Regions from separate parts of the Homo sapiens genome. Here region 1 is linked to region 2. The links come from fine-mapping of genetic effects on gene expression. Tissue or cell type: whole blood. Region 2 holds a variant in brackets; the other region holds the start of a gene. All regions are shown on one strand. Distances are between the middles of the regions.

Region 1 (8,000 bases), 25 kb before region 2:
ACGAGACTCTGTCTCCAAAAAAAAAAAAAAAAAAATTATGAGCAAACAAGATAATTAATAACTGATGTTAATATGAGCTTTGACAAAAACAAAACAGGGTGATAGAATAGACAGTGCTTTGGTGACAGGGTAATGTTTCAGCAGAGATCTAAATGACGAGAAAGGGCTGGCTGTCCGGAGAAAAGGGAAATAAGTTCCAGGCAAGTACAGATGTCCCGGGGCAGGGTGGCTGGAGCTGAGTGAGCAAGGATGAAGAGGGGGAGATTAATTCAGGAAGATCCCGTGAGCACTGAAGGCCATGCTAAAGATGTGTTCTTTTATTTTTTTTTTTTTTGAGATGGAGTCTCGCTTTGTCACTCAGACTGGAGTGCAGTGGCGCAATCTCAGCTCACTGCAACCTTTGCCTCCCGGGTTCAAGTGATTCTCCTGCCTCAGCCTCCAGAGTATCTGGGATTACAGGCAAGCACCACCACGCCCAGCTAATTTTTGTATTTTTAATAGAGACGGGGTTTCGCCACGTCGGCCAGCCTGCTCTCAAACTCCTGGCCTCAAGTGATCCGCCCGCCTCAGCCTCCCAAAGTGCTGGGATTACAGGCGTGAACCACCACGCCCAGCCACATGTGTTCTTTATACTGAGGGCAATAGGGAGCCATGGAAGGACTTTAGCCATCACTTTTTTTTTTTTAAACGGGTCTCCCTCTGTTACCCAGGCTGGAATACAGTGGCACAATCATAGCTCACTGTAACCTTGAACTCCTGGGCTCAAGTGATCCTCCCATCTCAGCCTCCCAAGTAGCTGGGACTACAGGACACCACCATACCCGGCTAATATTTGAAAAACATTTTTTTTTTTTTGAGACGGAGTTTAGCTCTTGTTGCCCAGGCTGGAGTGCAATGGCACGATCTCAGTTCACCGCAACCTCCGCCTCCCAGGTTCAAGCGATTCTCCTGCCTCAGCCTCCCGAGTAGCTGGGATTACAGGCATGCGCCACCACGCCCGGGTAATTTTGTACTTTTAGTAGAGACGGGGTTTCTCCATGTTGGTCAGGCTGGTCTCAAACTCCTGACCTCAGGTAATCCGCCCGCCTCAGCCTCCCAAAGTGCTGGGATTATAGGTGTGAGCCACCGCGCCTGGCCCTGAAAAACATTTTTGTAGAGATGGGGTCTCACTATGTTGCTAAGGCTGGTCTCAAACTCCTGGCCTCAAGTGATCCTCCCGCCTAAGCCTCCCAAAATGCCAGGATTACAGGTGTGAGCCACTGTGTCCAACCAGATTTTAATGTGAAGTTGGTGCCCTCCTCCCTCCTAAGAAGTCAGGTGGAGACAGTCAGCCCTCCAGGAATCAGACTGGCTCCTCACTCCCTGAGACACGTAGTTTCCCCCTCTTTGGGCCTCAATTTCCCCATCTGTAAGGTGGGTGAGTATAGCCACCCCATCCCTTGCTAATACAAGTAACTCAGCACAGGATGGGTAGCAACTGGCTACCTTGCAGGTAAGAAAGAAGGGGCTTACGGGGTGGGCACTGTGGCTCACGCATGTAATCCCAGCACTTTGGGAGGCAGGGTGGGCAGATCATGAGGTCAGGAAATCGAGACCATCCTGGCTAACACAGTGATTAGCCGGGTGTGATGGCACATGCCTGTAGTCCCAGCTACTCAGGGAGGCTGAGGCAGGAGAATCGTTTGAACCTGGGAGGCAGAGGTTGCAGTGAGCCGAGATCACGCCACTGCACTCCAGCCTGGGCGACAGAGTGAGACTCCGTCTCAAAAAAAAAAAAAAAAAAAAAAGAAAAGAAAAGAAAGAAAGAAGGGGCTTATTTGGATCAGGTCCCTCAGATTCTGCTGCCTCCGAAGGTGGGAAAAAATGTCTGAGCCCAGCACTGCCTCACTCAAAGATTCCTGTCTCAGATTTGTTCTATCTTGGATGGGGGTGTGAGGACACTGGCTCCATACATTCTCCAAGGGAGATTCTGGGACCATTCCCATTTCATAGAGAGAAATGGTTACTCAGCTAGAAAGCAGTGCGATCTGGGTCTGAGTCCGGATCAGAACGCTTTGTTTTTTGAGACAGAATCTCGCTATGTCTCCCAGGCTGGAGTGCAGTGGCACAATCTTGGTTCACTGCAACCTCAGCCTCGTGGGCTTAAGGGATTTTCCTCCCTCAGCCTCCCGAGCAGCTGGGATCACAGGCGCCCACCACCATGCCAGCTAATTTTTGTATTTTTAGTAGAGACGGGATGTTGCCATGTTGGCCAGGCTGGTCTCAAACTCCTGACCTTAAGTGATTCGCCCGCCTGGGGCTCCTAAAGTGTTGGGATTACTGGCATGAACTACCGTGCTGGCCTGGATCTCAGGCTTTGTTGAGCTGTTAACCAAGCTGTCAATCTCCCACCCTCCTGGTTCCCCAAACTTACACCACCATGAAAGACCCTCTGACCCCTTCCCTCTTCCCTAGCTGGGCTGGAGCTGGGGGAGGGTGTGCTGGGGCGTCCCACTTCTCAGCTTTGGGCCACGGATAAGTCAGCTCTGGAATTCCCCCAAGTAGAAGCAGCCCTGGACTTCCCCAGGGGCAGAGAGGATGAGGAACAGAATATACATCTTGAGGGGGGTGGGGGTCCCTTAAGCCTTGTTGGGTTGGCACAGAGCCAAGTTCCCAAACCATCATGATCGAGTCCTGGGGCCAGGTGCTGCGCTGGGCCAAGATACCCTGCCAGGTGGCCGCTATAACGTTTCCCGTTTTACAGCTGAGAAACTGTAAGAGACGCAATCTAGCCAAGCAAGGCGGTGGTTCACACCTCTCATCCCAGCTACTCGGGAGGCTGAGGCAGGAGGTAAGGCTAGACCCCCGGAGTTCAAGACCGGCCTGGGCAACAAAACGAGGCCCGCCCCTCCCCTCCATCTCCAACCCCCTACCCTTTTTTAAAGCTGCAATCTATAGCCCAAGGCCACACGTGGAGGTATGCAGGGTCTGGATTCGAACCTACTGGCTGTTGCCTTTCAATCGCTGTCTCTAGCCCCTCCTTCCCATAAACAGCTACCTAAGCATGCATGACCTGACCCGGGAGCCGGTCCTCCCGGGGCTTCGGAGAACTGGCCCGACGGCAATCCCCACCCCGACTCACCTGGGAACAGAGCCCCGAGCAGGACCAGGAGTGCGGGCAGCGCGGGCCGGGGGCTGCTGGGAGCCATAGCGAGGCTGAGGTTGCAACTCTGAGTAGCAGAGGAGCTCAGCGTCGACTGGGGCGCGTGATCCTTTATAGCGCTAGCCACCTGGGGGCCAAGGGGCGGTGCTGCTTTCCCGGAAACCTCGCGCCTTCCCCTCCGGAACAAATGCTGCAGTTATTTCCGGACTGACAGGGTGCCCGGGCCGAGAGGGTCATCCTCCCTCGCTGGCCGCTTCAGCTCCGGAATTTCCAAGCTAAAGCAATCGGGCGGCGGTGGCAGGGCGATGACCCCGGGGGCTGCTCCCGGCCTCCACGCCTCCCGTTTCCCGGCCAGGCTAAGCTTGAATCACGGTCTACACCGCGCTAAGCGGTTTATTAAGTACTTTTAAATACTGCCAACTTCCCCGGAGAGTGGAGACTGTTATTGTGTCCATTTCACAAAGCGGTAAACTGAGACTCCAGGCTGCGAGGGGGTCCGAACTCAAGTCCTCCCTCTCCAGCTTACGCAGGCCTCTTTAATCGAGTGGATGAGCCCCCTGCCTGGGTGGGGGCCCAGGAATCCTCCCCGGGCTCCCTCCACTGAGGGATGCCCCTCCCCCTAGGTCACGTCCACACCTAGCTGACACGGGCATTTCTCGAGAAGCGGCCAGAGCAGAGCCAGGCACCTCCCGGCGACCGCTAACCGTGGGAGTGACGAAGCGCGGTCTCACCACGTCCGGGGAAATCGGCGTCCTCTCTCTACACCCGAGGGCACTCACCCCGGCGGCCTCCTCGCTTCCCCTTTCGGCCTTGGCCGCGGAGGCGTCTTTACAGCTCCCAGAAAAAGGAAGGAAGCTGCGTGATCCCTACGCGCCGAGCCCCTCCGCTGGCGTCCCAGGCTCCGCGGGGAAACTGAGGCAGCTAGCTTGGATCTTGACGAGGGAGGGGAGGGGGACGCTCGAAATCCCTGCCTGTCGCTGGGAAACTGAGGCAGCAGCCCCCAGGCGCAGAGGCGAGGCAGGGAGAAGGGGCGCTCGAACCCCTGCCCTACGCGCGAGGCTCCGGCAACTCGAACCCAGGCTCATGCACTAAATATGAGCGGGTGTTTGCTTGGCCACCGCCTGTGCGTGTGACCCCAAGACTCGACATCCACCACGTCGAGGCTGGGTACTCTTAAGTCTCCGAGCACCAAGCCGCGCCGCCTAAGGCTTTCCTGTTGTGGGGCGCGCGCGGCGTCGCCATGGAGATCTCCGAGGGGCCAGGGAGGTCGCGCAGCAGAAGGGGAAGCGAAGGGTCCCCGGACGCGCAGGCCCTTCCTATCGGGGAAGGGGGCTGCGAGTCACTGGCCATCCAGAGACGCATATTTCCCCCGCCTCGGTCATTCCCAAGGAATTTCCACGGGGATATTTTTTTCTTGGGGGGCTGAGGAGTTCTGAATTCCCGCCCCGGAACGGCCTGAGCAAAGTCACAGGGTGGGACGGGGGACGCCCCTGGTCCTCAGAAGGCCTGGGAAAATCCTGCGCCACGGGTTCTTCCTCGGGCGGGTTCCACTGAGCTCTTGCCCCGGCCCGAGGTGCGCGAGCTCCCCCGCGCGGCCCAAGTCCCACTTGCAGCCACAATGGTGCCGTTCTTTTCTCAACATGTGGCTCAATGTTTTTTAAGCGCCTACTGTGTGCTTGGCGTCCTTCCAGGTACTGGGGACACAGGAATGAACAGAGTCAGACAAAAATCCACCTGGGCGCGGCTCCCACCTGTAATCCCAGCATTTTGGGAGGCCGAGATGGGAGGATCACTTGAGCCCAGGAGTTCAAGACCAGCCTGGGCAACATAGGGAGACCCCCATCTCTATGCAAAATACAAAAATTAGCCGGGTGTGGTGGTGCACACCTGTAATTCCACCTACTTGGGAGGCTGATGCAGGAGAATCTCTTGAACCCGGCAGGCGGAGGTTGCAGTGAGCCAAGATAGAGGCACTGCACTCCAGCCTGGGTGAGAGTGAGACTCAAAAAAAAAAAAAAAAAAAAAAAAAAAGGAACAGCCAGGAGAACAGTGTGGCTGGAGCAGGCTTAGCAAAGGAGAGATTCGAGGAGAGGAGCGGGCAGGGAGATGACAGGGCAGATAGGTGCAAGTTCCTGTCACCTGAGGAGGACTTTGTTGTTTTGTTTGTTTGTTTCTGAACCCCAGTCTCGTTCTGTCACCCAGGCTGGAGCACAGTGGTGTGATCTCGGCTCACTGCAAACTCTGCCTCCCAGGTTCAAGCGATTCTCCCACCTCAGCCTACCGAGTAGCTGGTACTACAGGGGTGCGTCACCACGCCTAGCTAATTTTTGTATTTTTAGTAGAGATGGGGTTTCACCATGTTGGTCTCTAACTCCTGACCTCTAGTGATCCGCCCCCCTTGGCCTCCCAAAGTGCTGGGATAACAGATGTGAGCCACCGTGCCTGGCCAGGACTTTGGCTTTTATGCCCAGCGAGGTGGGAGGTATAGAGGGTTCTGAGCAGAGGAAGGACCTTGCCCTAACTCAAGTGTTCACAGGGGCCCAGTTGAGGCTTCAAGAGCTGCAGCCAGGAGATGGGAGAGGAGGTGACTGTTCTAGTCCAGATGAATGATAGTGGGGCCTGGACTGGGCAGTGTCCTTGGAGAAAGGGCTGAATTTGACATCCGTTTTGGAGGCTGGGCCAACTGGAGGTGCTGGGACAAGGGGGATGACTCCTTGATCAGGGTCCGAGCCTTTTGGAGGATGGCGGGTCACTTTCTGAGATGGGAGTGGGATGGCTATGGTAGGGGGCAGGCTGGCAGAGAGAGACGGCACCTCCCAGTCCTCCGTTCCCTTAAGCGTTTTTCAAGGAAAAGGGAAGCAGATATTTCCTAGACCTTTGTTTCTGTCTCCAGGAAGGGCAGGGCTTCCTCCCGGTTGCCAGACAGTCAGGCAGGCCAAAGAATGGCCTCAGACCAGAGGCTGCCCACCAAGGGCAGAAGCCATCCCATAGTGTCCCATGCAAACGCCTTGCAGTTCCCTCAGCCTGGAATGCTCTTCCCTTCAACCCCAACAAGGCTGGCTCCTCCTGTCTTGTGGCCTGAGCTTTCTCCTAAATGAGTGTCCCCCCTACTCCATCCTGGGCCACATCCTGGGCGTTCCTTGTCACTCGCCTTAATATTCGAATTCCTTAACTCATTACTTGCTGAATTTCTTTTTTAATTTTTTGAGACAGAGTTTCACTCTGTCACCCTGGCTAGAGTGCAGTGGCACGATCTCAGCTCACTGCAACCCCTGCCTCCCAGGTTTAAGTGATTCTCCTGCCTCAGCCTCCCGAGTAGCTGGGATTACAGACATACGCCACCAGACCCGGCTAATTTTTGTGTTTTTAGTAGAGACGGGGTTACACCATGTTGGCCAGCCTGGTCTCAAACTCCTGACCTCAAGTGATCCACCTGCCTTGGCCTCCCAAAGGGCTGGGATTATAGGCATGAGCCACTGCTCCCGGCCTATTTAGTTTTTTTTTTTTTTTTTTTTTTGAGACAAAGTCTCGCTCTGTTGTCCAGGCTGGAGTACAGAGGTGTGATCTCGGCTCACTGCAACCTCCGTTTCCTAGGTTCAAGAAATTCTTCTGCCTTAGCCTCCCAAATAGCTGGGATTACAGGCACCCACCAACACCCCTGGCTAACTTTTGTATTTTTTTTTTTTTTCAAGATGGAGTCTCACTCTGTGGCCCAGGCTGGAGTGCAGTGGTGCGATCTCGGCTCACTGCAACCTCCACCTCCCAGGTTCAAGTGATTCTCCTGCCTCAGCCTCCCAAATAGCTGGGACTACAGGTGCGTGTCACCACGCACAGCTAATTTTTTGTATTTTTAGTAGAGACAGGGTTTCACCGTGTTAGCCAGGATGGTCTCGATCTTCTTACCTCATTATCTGCCTGCCTCACCCTCCCAAAGTGCTGGGATTACAGGCGTGAGCAAACGCACCCGGCCAACTTTTGTATTTTTATTTTACTTTTCATTTTATTTATGTAAATTTTTGTGAGGTCGTCTCACTCCGTCGCCCAGGCTGGAGTGCAGTGGTGCAATCTCGGCTCACTGCAACCTCTACTTCCCAGGTTCAAGCGATTCTCTTGCCTCAGCCTCCCAGGTAGCTGAGACTACAGGTACCCACCACCACATCTAGCTAATTTTTGTATTTTTAGTAGAGATGAGGTTTTACCATGTTGGCCTGGCAGGTCTAGAACTCCTGACCTCAGGTGATCCGCCCGCCTTGGCCTCCAAAAGGCGTGAGCCACTGTGCCCGGCAGAGCTTATCTTTGATTACAGATTTCTTCTGGGGAATAGCTTAGTTTGTGGTTTTGTTTTTCAAAACTCTGCTTCAGCAAAGATGTGGGGAAAAAAAAAGGGCTATGGAAACTCTTCTGATTCCAGTTTTGGTGATGGAAGACAGCCACCAGGAAACCCTGCCGAAAGAATGGGTCAGATCAATAATCTGAGCGGTCCCAGTCCTCCTCCAATGGCTGATGGATGAGGAAGGTAAATATCAGTTCTAAGAAGCAGACAACTGGACATGCACATTCATAGCAGAAGGAAACCGTCAAAAAGTAGAGGGAAGGTGGGGTGCAGTGGCTCACCCCTGTAATCCCAGCCCTTTGAGAGACTGAGGTGGGAAGATCACTTGAGATCAGGAGTTCAAGACCAGCCTGGGCAACACAGTGAGAACCTGTCTCTACAAAAAACAAAATAAGTAATCCCAGCACTTTGGGAGGCCGAGGCAGGCGGATCACGAGGTCAGGAGATCGAGACTATCCTGGCTAACACAGTGAAACCCCATCTCTACTAAAAATACAAAAATTAGCCGGGAGTGGTGGTGGGCGC
Region 2 (8,000 bases):
TGTGGTCCCAGCTAATGGGGAGGCTAAGGCAGAAGGATCACCTGAACCCAAGAGATTGAGGCTGCAGTGAGCCATGTTCATGCCACTGTACTCCAGCCTGGGTGACAGACTAAGATCCTGTCTCAAAAAAAAAAAAAAAAAAATGTGGCCGGGTGCGGTGGCTCACGCCTGTAATCCCAGCACTTTGGGAGGCCAAGGTGGGCGAATCACGAGTCAGGAGTTCGAGACCAGCCTGGCCAACATGGTGAAACCTTATCTCTACTAAAAATACAAAAAAATTAGCTGGGCGTAGTGGCGGGCACCTGTAATCCCAGCTACTCGGGAGGCTGACGCAGGAGAATCGCTTCAACCCAGGAGGCAGAGGTTGCAGTGAGCCGAGATCCCGCACCGCACTCCAGCCCATGCGACGAGTGAGACTCTGTCTCAAAAAAAAAAAAAAAAAAGAAAGAAAGAAAACAAAAAGTATAGTGTATTTCATTGTGTATTTTATCCCTGCAAGAATAACTGAATGCGGCCGGGCGTGGTGGCTCATGCCTATAATCCTAGCACTTTGGGAGTCCGAGGCGGGTGGATCACCTGAGGTCAGGGGTTCGAAACCATCCTGGCCAATATGCCAAAACCCCATCTTTACTAAAAATACAAAATTAGCCGAGCATGGTGGCGCATGCCTGTAATTCCAGCTACTTGGAAGGCTGAGGCAGAATTCCTTTAACTTGGGAGGCGGAGGTTGCAGTGAGCTGATACCGCACCATTGCACTCCAGCCTGGGCAACAAGAGTGAAACTCCGTTTCTAAATAAATAAATAAATAACTGTGGATGCATGTTTAAGACTCTATGTATTTTGCAACTTTAAAAGGTCTTTTAATCGTTTATTTTGTTGCTGTTGTTTTTGAGACAGGATCTCACCCTGTTACCAGTCTGTAGTGCAGTGTAACGATTATAGTTCACTGTAGTCTTGAATTCCTGGCCTCAGATGATCCTCTGCTGCAGCCACCTAAGTAGCTGAGGCCACAGGCATGTTCCACCATGCCCAGCAATTTTTTTTTTTTTTTTTTTTTTTTGTAGAGGCAGAGGTCTTGCTTTGTTGTCCAGGCTGGTCTTGAACTCCTGTTCTCAAGTGATGCTCCCTACCTGACTAATGTTTGTATTTTTCGTAGAGACAAGGTTTCACCATGTTGGTCAGGCTGGCCTCGGACTCCTGACCTCATGTGATCCACCCGCCTCAGCCTCCCAAAGTGCTGGGATTATAGGCGTGAGCCACTGCGCCTGGCCTATTGTATATTTTCATTGGTCATTCATACACCTGGTAGAGAGAATTTCAAAAATTACAAAGATTACTAGAGTGAAAATTCTGTCTACTCTTATCTGTGCCCCCTACCCCCCAGTTCTTCTCCCAGAAGCCACCACTACAATCAGCCTCCTGTGTGTCTACTCCAAAATCCGGTGTATGATTTTACAGGCAGATTTGCAAGTCTGTTCTGCACCAGAGAGTTTAGATTTTATGTGGCAAATGATGGAACAGTATTTCGTTTCTTTCTTTTTTCTTGTTTCATAGAGACAGGGTCTCGCCGTGTTGCCCAGGCAGATCTCAAACTTCTGGGCTCAAGCGATCTGCCCGCCTTGGCCTCCCAAAGTGCTGCGATTATGGGTGTGAGTCACCTCGCCTGGCTTTTTTTTTTTTTTTTTTTTTTTTGAGACGGAGTCTCGCTCTGTCGCCCAGGCTGGAGTGCAGTGGCGTGATCTTGGCTCACTGCAAGCTCCGCCTCCCAGGTTCACGCCATTCTCCCACCTCAGCCTCCTGAGTAGCTGGGACTACAGGTGCCCGCCACCACGCCTGGCTAATTTTTGTATTTTTAGTAGAGACGGTTTCACCATGTTAGCCAGGATGGTCTCAAACTCCTGACCTTGTGATTCCACCCCTCATCCCCCACAACAGATCTGTATCATCCATCCATGCCCTGTGCCTTTTGTTTTTTTTTTTTTTTTTTGAGACACAGTCTCATTCTGTCACCCAGGCTAGAATGCAGTGGTGCGATCCCGGCTCACTGTAACCTCCTCCACCTCCTGGGTTCAAGTAATTCTCCTGCCTCAACCTCCTGAGTAGCTGGGATTACAGGCAGACACCACCACGCCCAGCTAATTTTTGTATTTTTAGTAGAGATGGGGTTTTGCCATATTGGCCAGGCTGGTCTCGAACTCCTGACCTCAAATGATCCGCCTGCCTCAGCCTCCCAAAGTGCTGGGATTACAGGCGTGAGCCACCACACTAGGCCGCCTGGCTTAGTTTCTTAGTGATTTATTAGGCACCTACTGTGCACCACTGGTACACCAGTAAATCCAGCAAACACTTTTGAAATATTCACAGTCCAATGCAGAGGCCTGAAGGATCAGAGTTCAGGAGGGGAGTCTACAGGGTCTGTGGGCGTCCACAGGAGGAATTCCCAACCACGGGGGCAGGGTCTTGGGGTGGTCTTATGAAGCTGTAGCCTGAGAGCTAAGGCTTGAGGACTTTGTCCAGAGGAGAAAGTCTGTTTCAGGTTGAGAGAACAGCAGTCGCAGAGGCCAGGAGTGAGGAAAGACTGACAGGGGGCAGAGGTGGCTGAACCTTTCGGACTACCCACTGCATGCTTCCTTTGTTTTTGTTGTTGTTGTTTGAGACAGGGTCTCACTCTGTCACCCAGGCTGGAGTGCAGTGGTGTGATTTCAGCTCACTGAAACCTCTGTGCTGGTGTGCGACTGTAGTCCCAGCTTCTCAGGAGGCTAAGATGGGAGGATCACTTGAACCCGGGAGGCGGAGGTTGCAGTGAGCTGAGATTGCGCCACTGCACTCCAGCCCAGGTGACAGATCGAGACTTTGTCTCAAAAAAATAAAAAAGCAAATCTTCACCTCTGACCTTTCTGACCCTCTTCTCTTGCCCTATATTAATATTTATCTTCTTTTTTTTGAGACAGTGTTCCACTCTGCCACCCAGGCTGGAGTGCAATGTCGAGATCTTGGTTCACTGCAACCTCTGTCTCTGGGGCTCAAGTGATCCTCCCACCTTGGTCTTTTGAGTAGCTGGGACTACACGTGTGTGCTACCACACCTGGCTATTTAAAAATATATATATATTTGTAGACACGAGGTCTCACCACATTGCCCAGGCTAGTCTTAGACTCCTCGGCTC[C/T]AGCAGTTCTCCTGCCTTAGCCTCCCAAAGTGCTGGGATTACAGATGTTAGCCACCACATCTGGCCTAATGGTTATCTTCTTCTTCTTCTTTTTTTTTTTTTTTTGAGACAGAGTTTTGCTCTTGTTGCCCAGGCTAGAGTGCAATGGCACAGTCTCAGCTTACTGCAACCTCCATCTCCCAGGTTCAAGCGATTCTCCTGCCTTAGCCTCCCAAGTAGCTGGGATTACAGGCGCCTGCCACCACACTCGGCTAATTTTTTTGTATTTTGAATAGAGATGGGGTTTCACCATGTTGGCCAGGCTGGTCTCAAACTCCTGACCTTGTGATCTGCCCACCTCGGCCTCCCAAAGTGCTGGGATTACAGGCGTGAGCCACTGCACCTGGCTAAAAATGCTTTTTGTCTGCCTCTCCCATTAGAATGTAAACTCACCCAAGGCTGGAATTTTCCTCTATCCTATTACCTGCTGTAGCTTCAGCACTCAGCATAGTGTCTGGACCACAGTACATGCTCAATAAATGTTTCTTTAGTTCTTTTGTTTTTCTTTTTAGAGACAGAGTCTCACTCTGTCACTTAGGCTGGAGTGCAGTGGCATGATCATAGTTCACTGCAGCCTGCAACTCCCGGGCTCAAGTAATCCTCCTGCCTCAGCCTCCCGAGTAGCTGGGACCACAGGCATGCACCACCACACCCAGCTAATAAATGTTTCCTGAGTGAATTCCTTTGTTCATCCTGTTGCAGGGGTATTGCTAACAACAGAGGACTTTCTCCCTATGTCCCTGGGTCTCAAATCTCTGTCCACCTGAGGTCACTGGGCACGTAAGGTGCCCATACATGATTATTCATTCAGTAACACTGGTTTGAATCCAGGCACTGCCACTAATTGGCTGGATGGCCTTGGGCAAGTGGGAGCTGTGGCCTCCTAATCTGTAAGTGAAATACACACAAACCCTCCCCTACGGGGCTGTGTTGAGAATGAATTCTTCCTTCCACCCTCACTCCTCATCATCTGTTACCCATCCCCTAGAGGTAGGCTGTAAACATCTGAGTCAGGTCACTTCCCTCTTCTGCTTAGAACCCTCAGTGCCTTCATTTCACTTAGCACTAAAACCAAAGTCCTCATGCAACCCTCAAGTCCCCGCAGGACCTGCCCTAACCTTCCATTCTCCTGTTCCCCTTCCTCCATGGCTTTAGCCGCCCTGGCCTCCTCACCAGAACCCAGAACCCACCAATCACATTCCATTTCCCCGTTAATATCTATTTTTGTTTCTTTTATTATTTTATTCTTTTAAAAAACATGCTGAGGGCCAGGCGTGGTGGCTCACACCTGTAATCCCAGCACTTAGAGAGGCCGAGGTGGGCAGATGACTTGAGGTCAGGAGTTCGAGGCCAGCCTGGCCAACGTGGTGAAACCTTGTCTCTCTAAAAATACAAAAATTAGCCAGGTGTGGTGGCAGGCGCCTATAATCCCAGCTACTTGGGAGGCTGAGGCAGGAGAATTGTTTGAACCTGGGAGGCGGAGGTTGTAGTGAGCTGTGATTATGCCACTGCATTCCAGCCTGGGTGACAGTGAGACACTGTCTCAAATAAAACAGAACAAAACAAAACAAAACAAAACAAAACATGATGGAGTCTCACTATGCTGCCCAGGCTGGTCTCCAACTCCTGGCCTCTAGTGATTCACCACTTTAGCCTCTCAAAATTCTGGGATTACAAGCTTCAGACACCATGCCCAGCCTCCCCTGAATATCTGTATGTCTCACTCTTTCATCTCCTTTGGCTCTTTACTGAAATGCCACCTTCTTAGGTGACAATGCATCTAAACTTATCCTTCCCTTCCTACTCCAGCTTTTATTTTTTATCTTTTAGAGGCAGAGTCTCCGTCTGTCGCCCAGGCTGGAGTGCAGTGGCAGGATCATAGGTCATTGCAAGCTTTACCTCCTGGGCTCAAGCCATCCTCACACTCAGCCTCCTGAGTAGCTGGGACTACAGGCACATGCCACCACACTGGGCTGACTTGTTTTATTTTTGGTAGAGACAGAGACCCACTGTGCTGGCCAGGCTGGTCTCAAATTCCTGGCCTCAAGCTGTCCTCCAGCCTCGGCTTCCCAAAGTGCTGGAATTACAGGCATGAGCCACTGCACCTGGTCCCTACCCCAGTTTACACAGCATTCCCCAACTGGCATATTGATTATGAGTCTTTTTTTTTTTTTTTGAGACGGAGTTTCACTCTTGTTGTCCAGGCTGGAGTGCAATGGCATGATCTCTGCTCACTGCAACCTCCGCCTCCTGGGTTCAAGTGATTCTCCTACCTCAGTCTCCTGAGCAGCTGGGACTACAGACACACGCCACCACGCCCAGCTAATTTTCGTATTTTTAGTAGAGACGAGGTTTCACCATGTTGGCCAGGATGGTATCGATCTCTTGACCTCGTGATCCGCCTGCCTCAGCCTCCCAAAGTGCTGAGATTACAGGCGTGAGCCACTGCACCCTGCCTTTTTGTATTTTTAGTAGAGACACGGTTTCACCATGTTGTCCAGGCTGGTCTCAAACACCTGGCCTCAAGTGATCTGCCCGCCTTGGCCTCCCAAAGTGCTGGGATTACAAGCGTGAGCCACCGCGTCCGGCCCCCAGTTATGAGTCTTAATAAAAGGGCAGTAACGACCAGGGGACCTTCACACCAAAAGGCTCAAAGTTTGACCATTTTGAGCCAAGCCTGGGGAGAGGTCAAAGGCCAATGCAACCAGCCCTCTCCTGTGGATCAAAGGCTCAATTGCAGGTGACCTCTGTCCTTGGTAGTGTGGGACCAGCATCAACCCTGTAATCCAGAGAGGGTCTTTGCTGGCTGTGGGTATCACACCAATTTAGGGGGCACATATCAGATGCGGGAAGGCCCCTCAACATCTGGCCTCAGCTTTTCCTCCATTACTGAACAAGGGTTCTCACAAAGGCCAGGGGTCAGGCCTGCAATACTGGGGGGCAGCCCCCCAAAAAGAAGGTACAGAGCATGAGGTCGGTGGCTAAAGTGATCCGCCCAACTCAGCCTCCCAAAATGTAGGGATTACAGGCTTGAGCCACCTCACCCAGTCAATTTTCTTCATCTTTAAAATGGGATTGGCTGGGTGTAATGGCTCACGCCTGTAATCAGCACTTTGGGAAGCCGAGGAGGGTGGATCATTTAAGGTCAGGAGTTTGAGACCAACCTGACCAACATGATGAAACCCCGTCTCTACTAAAAATACAAAAATTAGCCCGGCATGGTGGCGGGCGCCTGTAATTCCAGCTACTCAGGAGGCTGAGTGACGAGAATTGCTTGAGCCCGGGAGGCAGAGGTTGCAGTGAGCCAAGATTGCGCCACTGCACTTCAGCCTGGGTGACAGAGCAAGACTCCATCTCAAAAAAAAAAAAAAAAAAAGTACAGGGCATGGATGGATGACACAGATCTGTTGGTGGGGGGTGAGGGGTGGTCTCCTATACTAGGGAGAGCTGCCTAAAGCGCCCCTCCCCCATCAACTGTCCAAACATCTGCTGTTTGTTTGTTTTCAGCTCAGCTTGTGTGTAACTGCCAAGCTCCGTGAGGGGGCAAAGCCTCCCACGGAGGGCCTCCCCGCAGTGGGGCTGATTTGCATGGATATTTTCATTCCCTACAGTTCCCTGAGCAACCAGGACAGGCGTGAAGGGTAGAAAAAAAGCCACAGAACTAGCCCTCCAGGCAGGTGTTGGCGAGAACCAGAGAGTCCAACCTCCTTGAGGGCCTGAGACCCTGGGCATGTCACATTGGCTCTCCAGGCCTCAGTTTCCTCCTCTGTAAAATGGGGGTATAGTTGCCCCTACCCACATGGTTCTTGCAGGGCTTAAGCCTGCGAGCCCTGGCATCATCTAGTCCCTGTGCTGTTCTCCCTGCATGGCTCGGGGCTGACCTCTGCACGGGACATCTCCCCTGCCAACTGGCTTCTGGCCACATTTAGCCAATGGGAGGCACTGGGGGCAGATTTTCCGAGAGGAAGGTAGGAGAAGCCAAGATATTTCTTTTCTCTTCTTTTCTTTTTTGAGACGGAGTTTCGCTCTTGTCGCCCAGGCTGGAGTGCAATGGCACGATCTCAGCTCACTGCAACCTCCACCTCCTGGGTTCAAGTGATTCTCCCGCCTCAGCCTCCCAAGTAGCTGGGATTACAGGCACGCACCACCATGCCCGGCTAATTTGGTATTTTTAGTAGAGACGGGGTTTCACCATGTTGGTCAGACTGGTCTTGAACTCCTGACCTCAGGTGATTCACCTGCCTCAGCCGCCCAAAGTGCTGGGATTACAAGCGTGAGTCACCGCACCCGGCCTCTTTTTGCTTTTTTTCTAGGGATAGGGTCTTACTCTGTCACCCAGGCTGTAGTGCAGTGGCACAATCATAGCTCACTGCAGCCTCGACCTCCTGGGCTGACGTGATCCTTCTGCCTCAACCTCCTGAGTAGCTGGAACCACAGGTGCGTGCAACCATACATGGATTTTTTTTTTAAAGATTTTTAAAATAGAGATGGGGGTCTCCTATATTACCCAGGCTGGTCTCAAACCCCTGGCTTCAAGTGATCCTCCCACCTTGGCCTCTCAAAGTGCTGGGATTACAGTCATGAACCACTGCACCCAGCCCAAGATATTTCTCCCCATATGCCTCTGGTAGCACCTCCCATTAGATATCATCTTCCTATATGGTAATTTCTATTTAAATTTTTTACATGGTCTGCCATATCCTTTATTTTTATTATATTTTTTAAGAGATGAGGTTTGGCTATGTTGCCCAGGCCGGAGTCCAACTCCTGGGCTCAAGTGATCCTCCTGCCTCA

The links. PIP is the estimated chance that this variant, and not a neighbour inherited with it, causes the effect.
Region 1: it holds the start of ICAM1, and the variant in region 2 is fine-mapped to the expression of ICAM1 in whole blood (TOPMed, PIP above 0.99).

Annotation. Positions count from the first base shown.
Region 1 is chr19:10,266,348-10,274,347 of GRCh38, reverse strand. It overlaps ICAM1 (intercellular adhesion molecule 1), which reads right to left and starts at 3,228. Exons shown (of 7, transcript NM_000201.3): 1 at 3,122-3,228. The coding sequence starts at 3,188. It overlaps LIMASI (lncRNA inflammatory and mucous response associated, antisense to ICAM1), which reads left to right. Exons shown (of 4, transcript XR_007067138.1): 2 at 7,554-7,658. RefSeq lists enhancers at 2,427-2,666, 3,577-3,666 and a silencer at 6,021-6,315.
Region 2 is chr19:10,241,725-10,249,724 of GRCh38, reverse strand. No RefSeq gene overlaps it. Among named protein-coding and RNA genes, the nearest start is that of MRPL4, 6.5 kb to the left of the region's middle. RefSeq lists an enhancer at 7,034-7,113. The variant C/T (reference allele first, on the strand shown) is at 3,168.